3 separate regions of the Homo sapiens genome follow, and regions 2 and 3 are each linked to region 1. Evidence: fine-mapped expression QTL. A gene starts in region 1. Each other region holds a variant in brackets. All regions are shown on one strand. Distances are between the middles of the regions.

Region 1 (5,226 bases):
TTCCCGGTCCCCAGCACAGGGGTGGGTACAGAAAATACAAATAGTAAATGCCTACGAAATAAATGAGTCGGTTGGTGGCAAGTAACACTGTTTTACCTGTACTAGGAAACGTGTGAGAGACATACTGGCAAAATCAAACAAGTTAATGTTTCACTGGGCTGGGCAATGGCAAAATGAGGAGAGCCCTAACCTTATATTTATTTATATTTATTTATTTATTTATTTATTTTGAGATGGAGCTTCACTCTTGGTGCCCAGGCTCGAATGCAATGGTGCGATCTCAGCTCACTGCAACCTCCGCCTCCCGGGTTCAAGCGATTCTCCTGCCTCAGCCTCCTGAGTAGCTGGGATTACAGGTTCCCGCCAACATGCCCGGCTAATTTTTGTATTTTTAGTAGAGTCGGGGTTTCATCATGTTGGCCAGGCAGGCCTCTCCTGACCTCAGGTGATCCGTCCACCTCGGCCTCCCAAAGTACTGGGATTACAGGCATGAGCCACCGCGCCCGGCCTCATAACCTTGTATTTTAACAAGCACCGAAACAGGCAGTTAACCTTAGGCCCAATCTGCTTATAGAATAAGGAACAGGAACAGGAAAATCAAAAGGTTGGCTACACCAGAGATAACTATTTTGCCAATGAATATTTTCAAGCTGGGGATAAATGACAGAGACGGTTTTCAATATAAGGGTGGCAAATTTCCTCTGTAAATAAAAGAGAAAGATGCTAGGAAAATTAGCAAAAGCATGACCTTTGACCCAGGCTAGAACCACAAGCCCGTGCAATTGAGGGTGATGCTGCATAGTGTTCAAACTCTTACTGGGACATGCAAGAGCCTCCATTACCTCTGTGCCCACCTCTCCTCTGTCCACAACTGGCTCCTTACCTGCTCACCTGCACATGCTCCAGACTAAAGATCAGGAAAAGCTGGGGCCTCTCTGTGCCCCCAAGACCCTGCACTGGTTTCTCAATGCCCTTATCACCATGGACGGTCATTCAGGGCCATTAGACTAGGAACTCCTTTAAGGAAGGCTCTCGTGGGCCTGACACAGCAGGTGCTCACTTAACCTTGACTGTGTTCATCTATCTTTTTGAGAAGGGCTGTCCAGGCAGGCATCTGAGTAGCACTCACAGCCTTGGGAGTTCTAGAAGCCATCCATGATGTACGCACACAGCCAGTGCCCTGGGTAATGATGACAGGCACAGCTTTCAAAGCAGACTGTCCTGCCTCAAGCCCAGCTCTACTTCTTACCAGCAGTAACCAGGACAGACCCCTTTCTAAGGTAGCCACCTCAAGGGGCATGAAAAGGATGGAGTGAACACTATGTGCTAGCATGGCTGGAACATAGTAAGTGCTCAGTATGTCTCAGCTCTTACCTGGGGCACAGTGGAGACTGGCGAGTCAGCACAGTAGGAAACCAGCTTTGAGAGGCAGAGGGCTCTTAACATAAAAAACGGCACAGCTCGGTACTGCTTGCATTTATAAGGCACTTTTCACGTGGATTACTAGTGGTTAAGCTTCAAACAACCCTATAAAGTAGCTAGTGGTATCATAACTCACATTTCATTGATGAAGGGACTAATGTTTCAGAGAGGTGAAGTAAGTTTTCCAGGGACACGCTGCACTGGAAAGAGGGTTCTGCTAGTCCAAATAGGGAGCTCTATCGACCTGAACCGCAAGGATCCAGCCAGGAAGTTGAGATGCGGTTGGACAGCCTACACCACTTCTGCGCCAGGGGGAGGCTGCCCAGAACAGGACGCCCTCCTAGGAACCACAGAGTTTAGCAAAGAAAAGTTTCCCTCTGTCCTGGGTGATTGAGGAGAGCTGCATCCAACAGGCCCTTGCACGAGACCAAATGCGTCGTGGGCACGCGCACACACACACAGACACACGGTGCAACCCGCCCTTCCAGGCCACCTCCGTCAGCCTCAGGCTCTCAAGGAAACCTCGGTTTCCTGGGGAGCCCGAGCCTAGAACCATCCCGACTGGCCTCCGAAGTCAACTCCTCCCTTCCACACCCCCAAGTGCAGGTTTCGGGTTCAACTCTCTGAAGCCGCCTCCCCAGTCCCGCGCTAGGCACCGTCCCGACTACTAAACGGCACTGGGTACCTAGGAGTTGCCTCAGCAGAAGCGCCGCGCCTGGCACGGGTCGGGCACACACTGCATTCGCTGGGCGAAGTGGCCATGCCTGGGTCCCCGCGCCGGGCAGCATGCGGTGCCCCGCAGGGCTCGGCCGAGGGTGGTGGAGGAAGGGGATGCCCCGCGAAGCGGGAATTCGCACCTCTCGCTCTCTTACCTTCCTCATTCTCGTCAAACACGGGGGGCTTGTGGGAGTGGTTCCCGCCCATATTCCGCCGTTGCTGCCGCTGCTACATGCCCGGCCGCTGGGATGCCGGATGCGGGATGTGGGACGCGCGCAGAGATGCGGGATGCCGGGGGCGCGCCCAGTCCGGGTTGTAGCCGCGCGCGGAGCCCGAGGGGGCCGAGCACCGTGCAGGGGCGGGGACGGCGTCCCCCTTCTCCTGGACGCCCTTCCGACTGCGCTCGCAGGGACCCCGCTCTCGCCGCGCCTTCCGCCGTGCCCCGCCTCGGGCTGCGCTCGCAGCTCCTTACTCCAGTGCCCGCCCGGGAACCCGGGAGCTCCTCGCGCCGGGGCCAACGTGCGGCGCTCCTCGCCGGCTACAGCGGGCGGGAGACGCGAGGCGGCGCGGGAGCAGGGGAAGGAGGGGAAGGAGCGGGGGAGGAGGGGACGGACGAAGGCAGCACGCAGTGGGCGGCGGCAGGGCGGAAGGAGCTGAGAAAGGGATCGGCCCGGAAGAATCTGAATCCCTGCTCGGCCCTCCTCCCTCGGCCGGGAGCTCGGTCCCTGCAGGCAGTAAGCGGTTTGTCAGCACCCACTATGGCCAGGCCTCGGCTACGCGCTTTGTTAGCACCATCCCACATCCGCCTCCGACAACCCAGCAGTAAGAAAGCATCGTTCATATTTTAGAGCGCAGTAGACGGAGGTCTAGAGGTAGAGGGGCTCTTAGGTCTGTGGTTAGTCGGCCCCGGCTGCGAAGGGAGTCCCAGGACTCCCCGCTAGCCTGTATTTGCCCATTCATATTGGGATGGGCAGTGGAGTGTCTGCTGGCTCTCCAACCGACGCTGTTCCTCTTAAGGTTTTTCTCAGTGTTTAATGAATGAAAGTATCTGTTTACTTTCTGACCCCTTAAGATTAGATACTAATCTGACCCCTTCATTGTACATGGGGAAACTGAGGCCCCAGACAGCCATAGTTTGCCCCAAACCATTCTCCCTGGGAATGGCTGGGCATGAGTCTCGGGATTCCCCCAAAATTGGGCGGCATCGGCGTCCGATTTAGGGGCGAGGCTAGCATGAGGGTCCCTGGGCTCCTGCGGCGGGAGCCTGGATCGGGAGATACGCGCCACAGTTGCGGGTGCCTAAGTAAGGGGTGCGGCAGATGCGCCCCAAGACGTGTGGGGCGAGCGCGGGTTCCCAGGACGCTCCCTGAGGGACAGGCAGGTCCCCCTGCCTTGCAGTCCTGCGGGCCCAGCTCTCCGGGACTGCAGGGAATCTTTGGCTACATCCTGCCATCTGCTGGGCGCCTGGAACCACTGTCCGTGCTTTGATAGAAAGCAGGGGTTCTTTGTGACTCTCTCCATCCTATCTCGTCCCCCAGTCCCCGTCCCCTACCTGGTCTCTCTCTCCAGTTCTCTCCCCTTCTTTCTTTTTCTTGGGAGAAGGGTGAGGGAAGCCGGGGAGACTCATACAGAAACAAAACAAAACAAAACAAAACAAAAAATCTCTTAAAGGCAGTGGGAAAGAACTGAGAAGGTCTGAGGCAGGCCCACCCACCATGACCCAGAGCTGGCTCTACCATTTACTGGCAATGTGTCCCACTTTGGAGTTCTTATCTGCAAAGTGGGCTGATTGATATTAACTCCTTGGGTTGTCTGTGAGAATTATATCAGGTAATATTTATAAAAGCAGGCAACAGTGCCCGGCATATAATAAATGATGAATAAATATTTCTTGCCTTTCATTCCACCAACAAGCATACACTGAGTAGCCAGTGTGCAGCAGGCAATGCCCTGAACACAGAGCTGGCCCCTAGCTCAAGAAGCATAGGGCGGAATGTGGACAGGCATGGGCTCTGGGCTCATTCTACCCAGGTTTCATTCTGCTTTGCCCCTCATTAGCCAGTTAACTTGGATAAATTACTTAACCTGTTCTGGACTCAGTTTCTTCATCTGAGTCCAGAAGGTGCTAATAAGAGAACTTTCCCTTTCTAACATTGTTATGAGGAATATATTGATATTGTGCTAGGCCGGGCGTGGGGGCTCACACCTGTAATCCCAGCACTTTGGGAGGCTGAGGCGGGTGGATCACCTGAAGTCAAGAGTTTGAGACTAGCCTGGCCAATATGGAGAAACCCCATCTGTACTAAAAAAACAAAACTTAGCTGGGTGTGATTGCCAGGCCTCTGAGCCCAAGCTAAGCCATCATAACCCCTGTGACCTGCACATATACATCCAGATGGCCTGAAGCAACTGAAGAATCACAAAAGAAGTGAAAATGGCCTGTTCCTGCCTTAACTGATGACATTACCTTGTGAAATTCCTTCTCCTGGCTCAGAAGCTCCCGACTGAGCACCTTGTGACCCTCGCCCCTGCCTCCCAGAGAACCCCTTTGACTTTAATTTTCCATAACCTACCCAAATCCTATAAAACTGCCCCACCCATATCTCTCTTCGCTGACTCTCTTTTCGGACTCAGCCCGCCTGCACTGAGGTGATTAAAAAGCTTTATTGCTCACACAAAGCCTGTTTGGTGGTCTCTTCACACGGACACGCATGACAGAAATGTCACCCACCTGTAATCCCGGCTACTCGGGAGGCTGAGGTGGGAGAATCCCTTGAACCTGGGAGGCGGAGGTTGCAGTGAGCTGAGATTGTGCCACTGCACTCCAACCTGGGTGACAGAGTGAGACTCCGTCTCAAAAAAAAAAAAACAAAAGAAAAGAAGGCATTGGCCAGAGAGGGTGCTGGCGCTGAGACTGGAAGGGCAAGGAATCAACCGGGTTGGAAGAAGAAAGGAGGCTACTGGTGCAAAGTTCTCCAGGCCTAGAGAGTGGGACACTTTGCAGATGCTGGGAGATGTTCCACACGGCTGGAATTAGTCTTGCAGTGCAGTGTTCAGTGACAGCGTGCATGTGTATTGAGAACTCTG
Region 2 (5,226 bases), 20 kb after region 1:
CTTGTCTACCTCTTCCAGCCTCAGCGTTTCAAGTATAATCTGGAGGTTTTCTTCTCATCTCCCAGGGCGGTTGTAAACAGAGAGTGCACTGGAAGTAGCAGCTGCAGTGCTCAGGGGTGCTTCCGCCCTTCTTGCCATCCTTATTCTTTGCCACATGCAAGCCCCACTCTCAGAAACCATGGCCTCCTCGTGAAGGAGAAAAAGGAACCATTCAAATTCAAAACAAAACAAAAAATTGCTCACACTTAACACTGCTTGCCGTGCCAGCAACGAGAAGAGGCTGAGCCAGTTTCCGAATTGCTTTCTGTCCAAGGTCTAAGTTGTTCTCACCCACTTCCTGCCCTGGGGTGTGTGTTGGCTACGGGGCTTCCTGAAAGGACACAGGCCAAAACACTCAAAATGCTTCCCAAGGGAGGAAGCCTTACCTTCCCAGAAGCTGGAGTCCACAGGAACCTGGAGGGAGAAGCAGGGTTTCCACGGGCCATGGCCCAGCTGGGGAAATGCTTGTTTATGGTGACCGTGCTGCAGCTGTGGACGCCGTATCACCTACCGTGTTGTAAGTGGAAAGGCAATCAAGGGCATCATTCATTCCCTCATTCCGCCAGCGTTCTCTTCCTTCCATGAGGCCGCTGACCCTGGGGCCCTTATAGGCTAGTGTGTGGGGTGTTTGGTGGTTGGGGACTGTGTTTGTGGGGCTGGAAGTTACATAAATAATAATAGCAAATCTCCAGTACTTACCTTACACCAGCAGTAGCCTCGGGCCTTTGGAAATATTGACCATTTAATCCTCTCTCAGCCCCATGTGAGAGGTAAAAGTGTGGCCTCCATTTTATAGATGAAGAAATGAGATAAAGTCACACAGCTGGGAAGGGAAAGAGCCGGTCTGTGAGCTCAGAGAGTTCAACTGTCTGGTTTGAGTTTAAACCTTTAAATCAAACTGGGCCTCTAAAGGACAGAAAATAGAAGGGTGCTTGCCAGGGTCTGGAGGGAGCGAGGAGTGGGGAGTTAGTGGTTAATGGGGACAGAGTTTCAGCTTGGGAAGATGAGAAAGTTCTAGAGGTAGATGGTGGTGATGGTTGTACAACAATGTGAATGTATTTAACACCAAATTGTAAAAATTGTCAAAATGATAAATTTTATATTATGCATATTTTACTACAATAAAATTTTTTTTCATAGGTATGGGGGAAAATAATATAGCTCTAGAAACTGGTCATCTTTCATTATAACAGAAATCATGAAAGATGGAAAATGCAGTTTAGGGGTTTTTTTCTTTTCTTTCTCTTTCTTCTTTTTTTTTTTTTTTTTTTTTTTTTGAGATGGAGTCTTGCTTTGCCGTCCAGGCTGGAGTGCAATGGCACAATCTCGGCTAACTGCCTGCAACCTCCGCCTCCCGGGTTGAAGCAATTCTCCCACCTCAGCCTCCTGAGTAGCTGGGACTACAGTTGTGCACCACCACGCCCGGCTAATTTTTGTATTTTAGTAGAGACGGGGTTTCACCACGTTGTCCAGACTGCTCTCGAACTCCTGACCTCAAGTGATCCGCCCGTCTTGGCCTTCCAAAGTGCTGGGATTACAGGTGTGAGCCACTGTGCCCGGCCAGGTTTTTTTTTTTTTTTCTTTCTAGGAGCTCAGGAGTCATAACTGGCTACTAGTCTCAAGTTCTAATTTCAAAGGACCTATATATCGTTGTATATGCAACTGATACAAAAAACGTATTTGTTTAGCTAAGTCAATTCTGTTAATTTGTTTTAAAAAGTCTGCTTGGTGAATCATTCAGCATTCTATTAGCAAAACAAAGGGTAAAAAACATACAGTCTGTAATGCAAGGTGGTATCTGTTTCCCAGTTGGGGAATTTTCTAAGTGCTCTATAGACACAGATCTGGTGAGAGCGACCAGCCTTGAGTGAGCAGCCACTCTGTCTGAAACTGGGCCTCCACTTAAATCCTCACACCCACAACTGGGTGAGGGATCTGAGGAGGGGACTGAGGCCGTGGTGTCAAGCACCTTCTTGATATCACAGGCCTGCTAAGTGGGACCCCGACCTGCCCATGAACCCACATTTGGGCCTCTGTAACGTGCAGCTTCTTACATCCCTGTGCAAAGAGGACTTGGCATTCTCATGATTGGCCCCTTAAAAGCAATGAATCACCAAATTTATAATGGAGAACAGACTCCAAACATATTTATCTTTTTTTTTTTGGAGACAGAGTCTCCTAGACTGGAGTGCAGTGATGTGATCACTGCTCACTCCAGCCTCGACCTCTTGGAGTCAGGTGATCCTCCCGCCTCAGCCTCCCCAGTAGCTAGGACCACAGGCACATGCCACCATA[C/G]CCAGCTAAGTTTTGTTTTTTTATACCAGAGATGATGTCTTACTATGTTGCCCAGACTGGCCTCAAACCCTCTAAATAAAGTCATCCCTCATTTTCCAAGGAAAGTAAAGTTCAAAGATAAGTGAGGCACTTGCCCAGAGTCCGACAGTGTGATGGTTAATTTCATGTGTCAGCTTGACTGGGTCACAGTCTGTACTCAGGTATTTCGTCAAGCATTATTCCAGATGTTTCTGTGAAGGGGTTTTTAACATGAGATGAACATTTAAATCAGTACATTTTAAATAAAGCAGATGACACTCCATAATGTGGGTGGGCCTCGTCCAATCAGTTGAAGGCTCAGAAAAAGTCTGAGACCCACCAAGAGCAAGAAAATTCAGCCTCTGGATAACCTTTGGACTAGAGCTTCAACATCACCTCTCCCCTGGGTCTCCAGCCTGTCAGTCTGCCTTGCAAAATTTGGATTTGCTGAGCTTCCACAATTATTTAAAATCAATTATTTAATTGACTCAATTACTTAAAATCAGCCTTCTCTCTCTCTCTCCATGTATATGTATAGATGTGTGTGTGTGTGCATGTGTCTATACATACACACATTCTTTTTCTTAGGAGAACCTAATACACACAGCTTGTTAGCATTCATGTAAATTACTTTTTTTCCTTCTTGCCTTCAGTGAATATGTATTGAGTCCCTCGTCTTAAGTGGCAGGAAGATGTGGTGGCTGGGAACACAGATTGAACCTAGCTGTCTAGGTTTGAACCTGGGCTCCACTATTAATTAATGGTATGACCTTGAGCAAGTTACTTAACTTCCCACCCTCTGGTTCCTCTTCTGTGAATTGAGGCTGTGATAATACCAACTCCTACCTTGTAAGGTTTTTATGAGGATTGCTTTGGTTAAAGTGCCTAGTGCCCCAAGCACCAGACACCCGGCTCACACTGTATCCACATTAGCTATTGTTCGTTTCCAGGCACCCAGACTATCATGCCAGGATATGACAGCATGGCAGAAAAGTTTCATCAACTTCACAATGTTACCAGGTGCTACTCACATCTTCTAAAAGTATTCCATTCAGTATCCATGCTAGGTCTGGGGGATCCGGAGATGACCAGCTCAGCTCCTGCTATCAGGAAATCCCAAATCTGATAAAGAAATTGACACATCCTTAGAAGGCAGCATGGGTAATATGGCACATGTGTTACTAGCTTGAAAAATCATCAACCTCAGTGAATAACCTCGAATAATAGTGCATTAGTCCATGTATTGGTTTTCTAATGAGTTGCTGTGTGTATTAGTCCATTTTCACACTGCTATAAAGAACTGCTCAAGACTGGGTAATTTATAAAGGAAAGAGGTTTCACTGACTCACAGTTCAGCATGGCTGGGAAGACCTCAGGAAACTTAACCATCATGGTGGAAGGTGAAGAGGAAGCAAGGCACTTTCTTCACAAGGACACAGAAAAGAGAGTGCTGAGCAAAGCGGGAAGAGCCCCTTATAAAACCATCAGATCTCATGAAAACTCATTCACTATCATGAGAATAGCATGGGGAAACCACTCCCATAATTCAATTACCTCCACCTGGTCTCTTCCTTGACACGTGGAGATTATGGGGATTACAATTCAAGATGAGATTTGGGCGGGAACACAAAATTTAACCATATTACTGTGTAACAAATGACCACCAACTTGAAGGCTTAAACAATACCATTTATCAGCTTGCAGCTCTGGAGATGGGCGCCTGGGTGGGAGTCTGCTGAGTTCCCTGCTCTGGCTCTCACAAGGCCAAAATCAAGGTGTCGGACAGCCTGGGTTCGTCTGCAGGAGCCGTCGGGGAGGACCGGCTTCCAGGCTGTATGGGTTGTTAACAGACCTTTCCTGGTTGTGTCAGATTGTTAACAGAGCCCCATTGCTTACAGCCCTAGGTCTCAGGTTCCCATTTCCTTGCTGGTGTCAATCAGGGGCCACTGTCTACTTCTGAGGGCCACCAGCATCCGTTCTCTTGTGTCTCCCTCCACTGTCAAGCCAGCAACACTGGGTTGAATGTTTTCCACACCTGAAATTTCTCTGACTCCCTCGTCTGCTCCCAGCCTGCAACACTTACTGTTTTAAAAGTGTTTGTGTGATTGCATTAGGATCACCTGGCTTATCTCTCTTTTGATCAAGTGACTTTTATTACAACTGCAAGATCCCTTTGCCATGTAACTAACCTAACCACAGGAGAGATCTCATCCTATTCATAGGCCTACCCCCAACTCAGTGGAGGGGGTTCTGCAAGGGTCATTGGGGATGATATGGTTAGGATCTGTGTCTCCACCCAAATCTCATGTTCAATTGTAATCCCTAGTGTTGGAGGTGGGGACTGGTGGAAGGTGATTGGATCATGGGGATGGTTTCTCCTGAATGGTTTAGCACCATCTCCCTTGATGTTGTCATCATGATAGTGAGTTCTCCTGAGACCCGGTTGTTTAAAAATGTGTGGCACCTCCTGCCTCTTGTTCCGGCCATGCGATGTGCTCCCCTTTGCCTTCCACCAGGTTGTAAGTTTCCTGAGGCTGAGCAGATGGCAGCATCATGCTTCCTGTATAGCTTACCGAACCATAAGCCAATTAAACCTCTTTTCTTTATAAATTACCTAGTCTCAGGTATTTCTTTATGGTAGTGTGAGAGTGAACTAATACAGGGGTCATTGTAGAATTCTGCCTGCCACAGTCAGGATGGGCTAGATTACACTGCTGTAACAAACAACTCCTAGTCCTTACCACAGATTGTCTGGGACATCACTCTGGGTCTTCTCCACCGCAGTTTGAGGCTGATAGAGCATCAACCACATGAATTGCTTTTCATAATCTCTGCCCAAAAGCAAAGCCCAAGCAAAACTTGGGTGGTCCCATG
Region 3 (5,226 bases), 160 kb before region 1:
ATACAACTAAGTGAATTCATGCTGATCAGGTTTTATCTGAGTTTTAGAACATAGGATGCAGAGAATATATTCTGTAGAGACAGAACCAGAAAGCGCAGAGAGCAGACACTTGATTTTAAAAAAACGATGTCGACCTTCTGCCTGCGATCATTGATTTATCTCCGCCAGGGTCATAAAAAGCGTGTTTCCTCTCACTCATCGAGATCTCTTGCAGGCCAACTCATCACTCATGAAATTTTATACTTACAGCCAGCAGCCCCAACCTCGTGCAAATATGACACTTATGTCCAAATTGAATGCACATAAAATGTCATCCTACCCTCACCAACACAGCAACTTCCAATTATATAATGTTTTAAGGGACGATGACAAATGTGGGAGAAATTGCCTGGTGGCCTTTGCTAACATAACAAAATTGGAAAGTTTGGATGAAATCACAGGATGTGGAGGGCATTCTGACTTCACGAGGTGCCAGTTTGCTTTGATTAAGCAGCCATGGGGTGCTTCTGCAGGAAAACCTTTGTGGGGACTGCGGTTTATCTCCGGTTTTCGTACCCTTCACATGATCCACATAGTCACCTCAGTGCAGAAAGTCATGACTTACATTTTGAGAGCTCTTTAAAAGGCTGACAGTAAGCCCACAGACAGTAGGGAAAAATTGCTTGTTTTGAGAGGTGTCACATCTGAATATTACTTGCACAAATAACCTTGACTGCTCGGGTCTGAATCCTGGTTCTGACTTTTGGTAGCTGTGTCATGTTAGACATGTTTTTCTGCATGCTATGCCTCTGTTTCCCCACCTTCTAAATGTCTATAATAATCACATCTACTTGCTTACTAATTGTGAAAATTAAAAATGATGGCCTGTATAAAACATCAGAGCGGTCCCTGACACACAGTAAATGCTTAATAAAGATTAGTAAGTAAAAAGACCATTAAATAAAATCGCCTGTGTCCTGCTCTGTAATAGCACCTGGCACACAGTAGGAGCTAAACAATTATTTGCTGCACGAGTGTTGAATGAATTACCGTTAGTCCCTCGGCTTCAGTTTTCATTGGTGAGTCTTAACTCTCAACGTTGTCATGAAGATAAAATACTATGGCAAATACCCAATAAATAGCAGTTTATAAAATGAACTATAAAAGCCCCATTTACTGAAGTAAAAACAAAATCAGAGAGACTTGTCGCTTGATCATTTTAGAGCTTGCGTGATTCACAGTGTAAAATGCGAGTTTGTTTACTTTTCAAATGAACAAATGTGCATTTTACTCTGTGAAGCAAGATTGTTTGTTTGCTTGTTTGTGTTTGTTCTTTCTTCCCCAGAGAGGATGATGCTGACCTCATGGGGTCATTGCACATGGTGAGTTAACAGAAGAGAGAAGGCTGGCAGGGAGGAGATGGGCCACATTTCACAGCCTCTTATTCCGCAAGCAAATAAGCTTCCATCCCCCCTCCTCCCCTAGTCCTACCTCCCTGGACAGAGTCCCAGACTCACACACAAGTGCTTTCCCCCTGGTCCTCCTGGGGACCTCCAGTGGTTTGGCTCTTTCCTTGTAGAAGTAACTCTTCTGGTCATCCCATTGTTGACAAGACTACCTCTGGGGGCTCCTGATACTGCTATTTCTCCCCAAGTGGTAGCTGTACTGCCAGGAAGCTCAAGATCCCACTCTTTCCCTATTTCTCTCTCCCAGAATTACAAATCTTTTCCATTAGCCTTGGACCAGGAAGGCCTTGTCTTCTTAATTTCTTACAGCACACCTAGGGAAGAGTTCTGAGGAGTAATGTGTATTTGTGGAAAAGCATGCTAATAGACAAATAAGTTTGGTTTTTACTAGTTTAAAAAGTGAAAATGAAGTTCTTTACTGAAGGAATTCTCAGAGCTTTTGGTATGCCACTATTCACGGGACTCTTCAAGACAGGGGATATAAGAAGTATTTCTGGTAGGGCATGGTAGCTCACACCTGTAATCCCAGCACTTTAGGAGGCTAAAGTGGGAGGATCATTTGAGCTCAGGAGTTTGAGA[C/A]CAGCCTAGGCAACCTAGTTAGACCCCATCTCTACACAAATTTAAAAATTAGCTAGGCATGATGGTGCATACCTGTAGTCCCAGCTACTCATGGGGCTGAGGTGGGAGGATCACCTGAGCCCAGGAGGTCAAGGCTGCAGTGAGTTGTGATCACACCACTGCATTCCAGCCTGGGGCATAGAGGGAGACTTTGTCTCAAAAAAAAAAAAAAAAGTATTTCTAAAACTTAATTTACTTCACCAATATTTGGATAGAAAACACTTTTGCAACTATACTGTAAGTGTTCCAAGGAATAGATTTTAAAATAGATTAAATGCCCATTTATCTGTTTTTGAATGCCTGCCAATGCCTTCTCTAGGGCAGGGCTCATAACAGTGGACTTCACACCTGGTCCCTGCCTTCATGGAATTTGAAGTCTAGTAAGGGAATCACAGACATAAGCCCACAAGTAGAGTTCATAATGCACACCATAAGAGGACACAAAGTACAACAGTGCAGGTTTGTCTTCGGTGAGGGCAGGACAAGAAAAGTCTTCAAGGAAAATGAATTATCTGTGATACTGATGAAAGACTAGCTATGCTGTGAATGTGCAGAGATGGATGGACGAAAAGGGACAAAGAAGGGCAAGAAGACTGGGAACACCAGGCCCAGGCTGTTGTGCATGGCCCGAGGAGATGGGGAAGGGCAGAAGGTCAGGTGGGTAAGGTGTGAACAGTGGGTGAGAGACCTCATATGGAAAGCCTTGAGGAGGAGGAGGAGGAGAAGAAGAAGAAGAAAGAGGAGGAGGAGGAGAAAGACAAGGGGAAGAGGACATGTAGCACACACAGGCTGGAGATTCAGTCTTCAACATTATGCCTTTGTAACAAGATGCTAGTTTCAAGGAAATGGCTCCTGAATTGCATATGTGCTGAGCTGTGGGTGTGTGTTTGACATTTCAACTTTCCAATGGAAGAGCTTCAATGACGCACAATTTAAGCCTTCCAGGAATTGTGCTGTTACATCCAAATCAGGCAGTTGGCCTCTAGAAATTCACATATTTGACCTAAATCCCTGTGTCAGCAACAGGAAATCTATTGCCCTTGAAGATGCAGTGGTATAGAGGAAACAATCTAGGCTTTGGAAGTAGACAGTTGGGGGGCCATATCCTGATTCTGTTTTTTTTCGATGTTGCAGTTTTGGACAAGGTTGTTAAAGTATCCAACCTACTTTCTCAAATGTCAATGGTGGTATTATAAACGCTTCCTAGGCCCAGGCACTTTATGATAATTAGGTGAGATAATGTTCATGAGGGATCTAACACAGAGACCAGCACAGAGGTGCTTGGTGTAGATGGCAGCTGCTGGGATTCTAACATCATCATTATCAATTCAGTTCAGTTGAGGGGATAAAGCAATTTCATGGAGTTACTCTCTTGCACACTATTCTTCCTTTCACTGTCTTCAGAATTTTGACCACTGGTTGCCCCATTCAAGAAATCGTAAGCTCTAGGCTGGGCACAGTGGCTCTCACCTATAATCCCAGCACTCTGGGAGACCAGGGTAGGAAGATCACTTTAGCCTAAGTATTTGAGAACAGCTTGGGCAACATAGCAACACCCCATCTCTACAAAAAATACAAAAAAATTAGCCAGGCATGGTGGCACATGCCTGTGGTCCCAGCTACCTGAAAGACTGAGGTGGGAGGATTACTTGAACCTGTGATTTTGAGGCTGCAGTGAGCTGTGATTGTGACACTGCACTCCAGCACAGGTGACAGAGCAGGACCCTGTCTCAAAAGAAAGAAAAAAAAGAAATGTAAACTCTATTTCCTGACACATAAGTCTTCCGATATCTCTCCCTCTTCACCCACCCTACTGTTAATATGTTAGTCCATACTCACAATTTTCTGTTACCTGAATCTCTCCATGTGCAGAAGTGCTGAGGGGGAGGCAGCTGGGATGGAAGCTCCAGACAGAGCACACTGGACAAGGAAAAGGGGCCATGAGAGGGGCATGTGCCCAACTGGGCAGGACTTTGAAAATCAAAGAAAACTAGACTTCTTCCTGAAGGCAATAAGGAATCACTGATGAAGCCCACTGAGCAGGGAAAAGGTTTATAAAGAATGAAGTTTTATGAAGATTGCTTGTCAGGCATCGTGATCATTTATCTGACACAAGACAAAATAATCATATCTACCAGATGGGCTTGATTTGGGTGAATCAAGCCAGAATGGATTTACCCAAATTAATCTCTCATCTTTTCCCTTCCCACCATGGGGCGATCATTGAATTCTTCCCTACCCAGAATATCTAAGAGACCCCGAGACTACCGTGTTTATCAGTGGCATTGAGGATGACATGGGTGGAAATCCAAGGTTCAAGCAGGGAGATATGAGTCCTTGGGGTACCATACAGAGCTCATACTTTGAAGCCAGAATTTTGCCTTCAAGTCCTACCAGCTGAGTGATGTTAATAAAGTCATTTAGTTTTGCCAGGACTAAGTTTTCTGCCCTGAAATTGAAGTTAGAAAACTTCTCATGACTAATGTGAAGATCAAATGCCATAACAACTACAAAGTGTTGTATATGCAGTAAGAACTCAATAAATCATATATGAGACTTGGTTCTCCTCCAGAGCCCAGACCATGGTTTGTTCTTATTTACTTCCATAGCACCAGTGTTTGATGATCAATCATTCTACTCAGCAATATCCGGCGCTCCTTCCTTTCTAGGCAAGGGGTAGAAATTTATTTTCTGACTCCCTGTGGCTGGAGGAAGCCATGTAACTAACTGATGGGGAAAATAAATGGGTGTGAGCCACTTCTGGGCTGAGTTCCCTTTCCCTCAGGCCCTCACATGGTCAGGGCTCAAGAGGTACCATCAACCTACAATCCTGAATCACCTGGTGAGCAGAGCCTTCTCCCAGTCCAGGCTGGACACACTGTAGTATATCCAACAAGAAAGAGACCTCTGTTCTTTTAAGCCATTGAAAACTGGGGGTTGTTTTTTACTGCAGCATAGCTTAGCCCATCCTGACTGATAGATACAGCCATGCCTGTAACACAACATCAAACCAGAAAATGTTTCCTTTGTGAATAAATGTACAGAGAAGGAAATGTGGATGTTAAAAAGAGAGGAAAAGCAAAATAAAATAAAAGTAATAAACTGAAATGTCCAGAAGAGAAAAAACAAACATATGACACAGGTCATGCAACTTCATCTTGGA

Which allele goes with the higher level. Alleles are on the strand shown, and positions count from the first base shown. SD is a standard deviation of normalised expression in the study named. Not every link is listed here.
In carriers of allele C in region 3, the expression in skeletal muscle of the gene that starts at base 2,730 in region 1 tends to be higher than with A alone (small effect, 0.22 SD a copy in GTEx).

Evidence for each region. PIP is the estimated chance that this variant, and not a neighbour inherited with it, causes the effect.
Region 2: its variant is the best candidate, but not a certain one, in a credible set for the expression of STK32B in blood mononuclear cells (TOPMed, PIP 0.80).
Region 3: its variant is the best candidate, but not a certain one, in a credible set for the expression of STK32B in skeletal muscle (GTEx, PIP 0.54).

The regions. Positions count from the first base shown.
Region 1 is chr4:5,048,984-5,054,209 of GRCh38, reverse strand. STK32B (serine/threonine kinase 32B) reads right to left here and starts at 2,730. Exons shown (of 12, transcript NM_018401.3): 1 at 2,295-2,730. The coding sequence starts at 2,346. RefSeq lists an enhancer at 1,490-2,028.
Region 2 is chr4:5,028,567-5,033,792 of GRCh38, reverse strand. It overlaps a transcript of STK32B not described here. Among named protein-coding and RNA genes, the nearest start is that of CYTL1, 12 kb to the right of the region's middle. RefSeq lists an enhancer at 129-178. The variant C/G (reference allele first, on the strand shown) is at 2,335.
Region 3 is chr4:5,207,809-5,213,034 of GRCh38, reverse strand. All of the region lies in intron 3 of STK32B (serine/threonine kinase 32B), which reads right to left. Among named protein-coding and RNA genes, the nearest start is that of STK32B, 160 kb to the right of the region's middle. The variant C/A (reference allele first, on the strand shown) is at 2,025.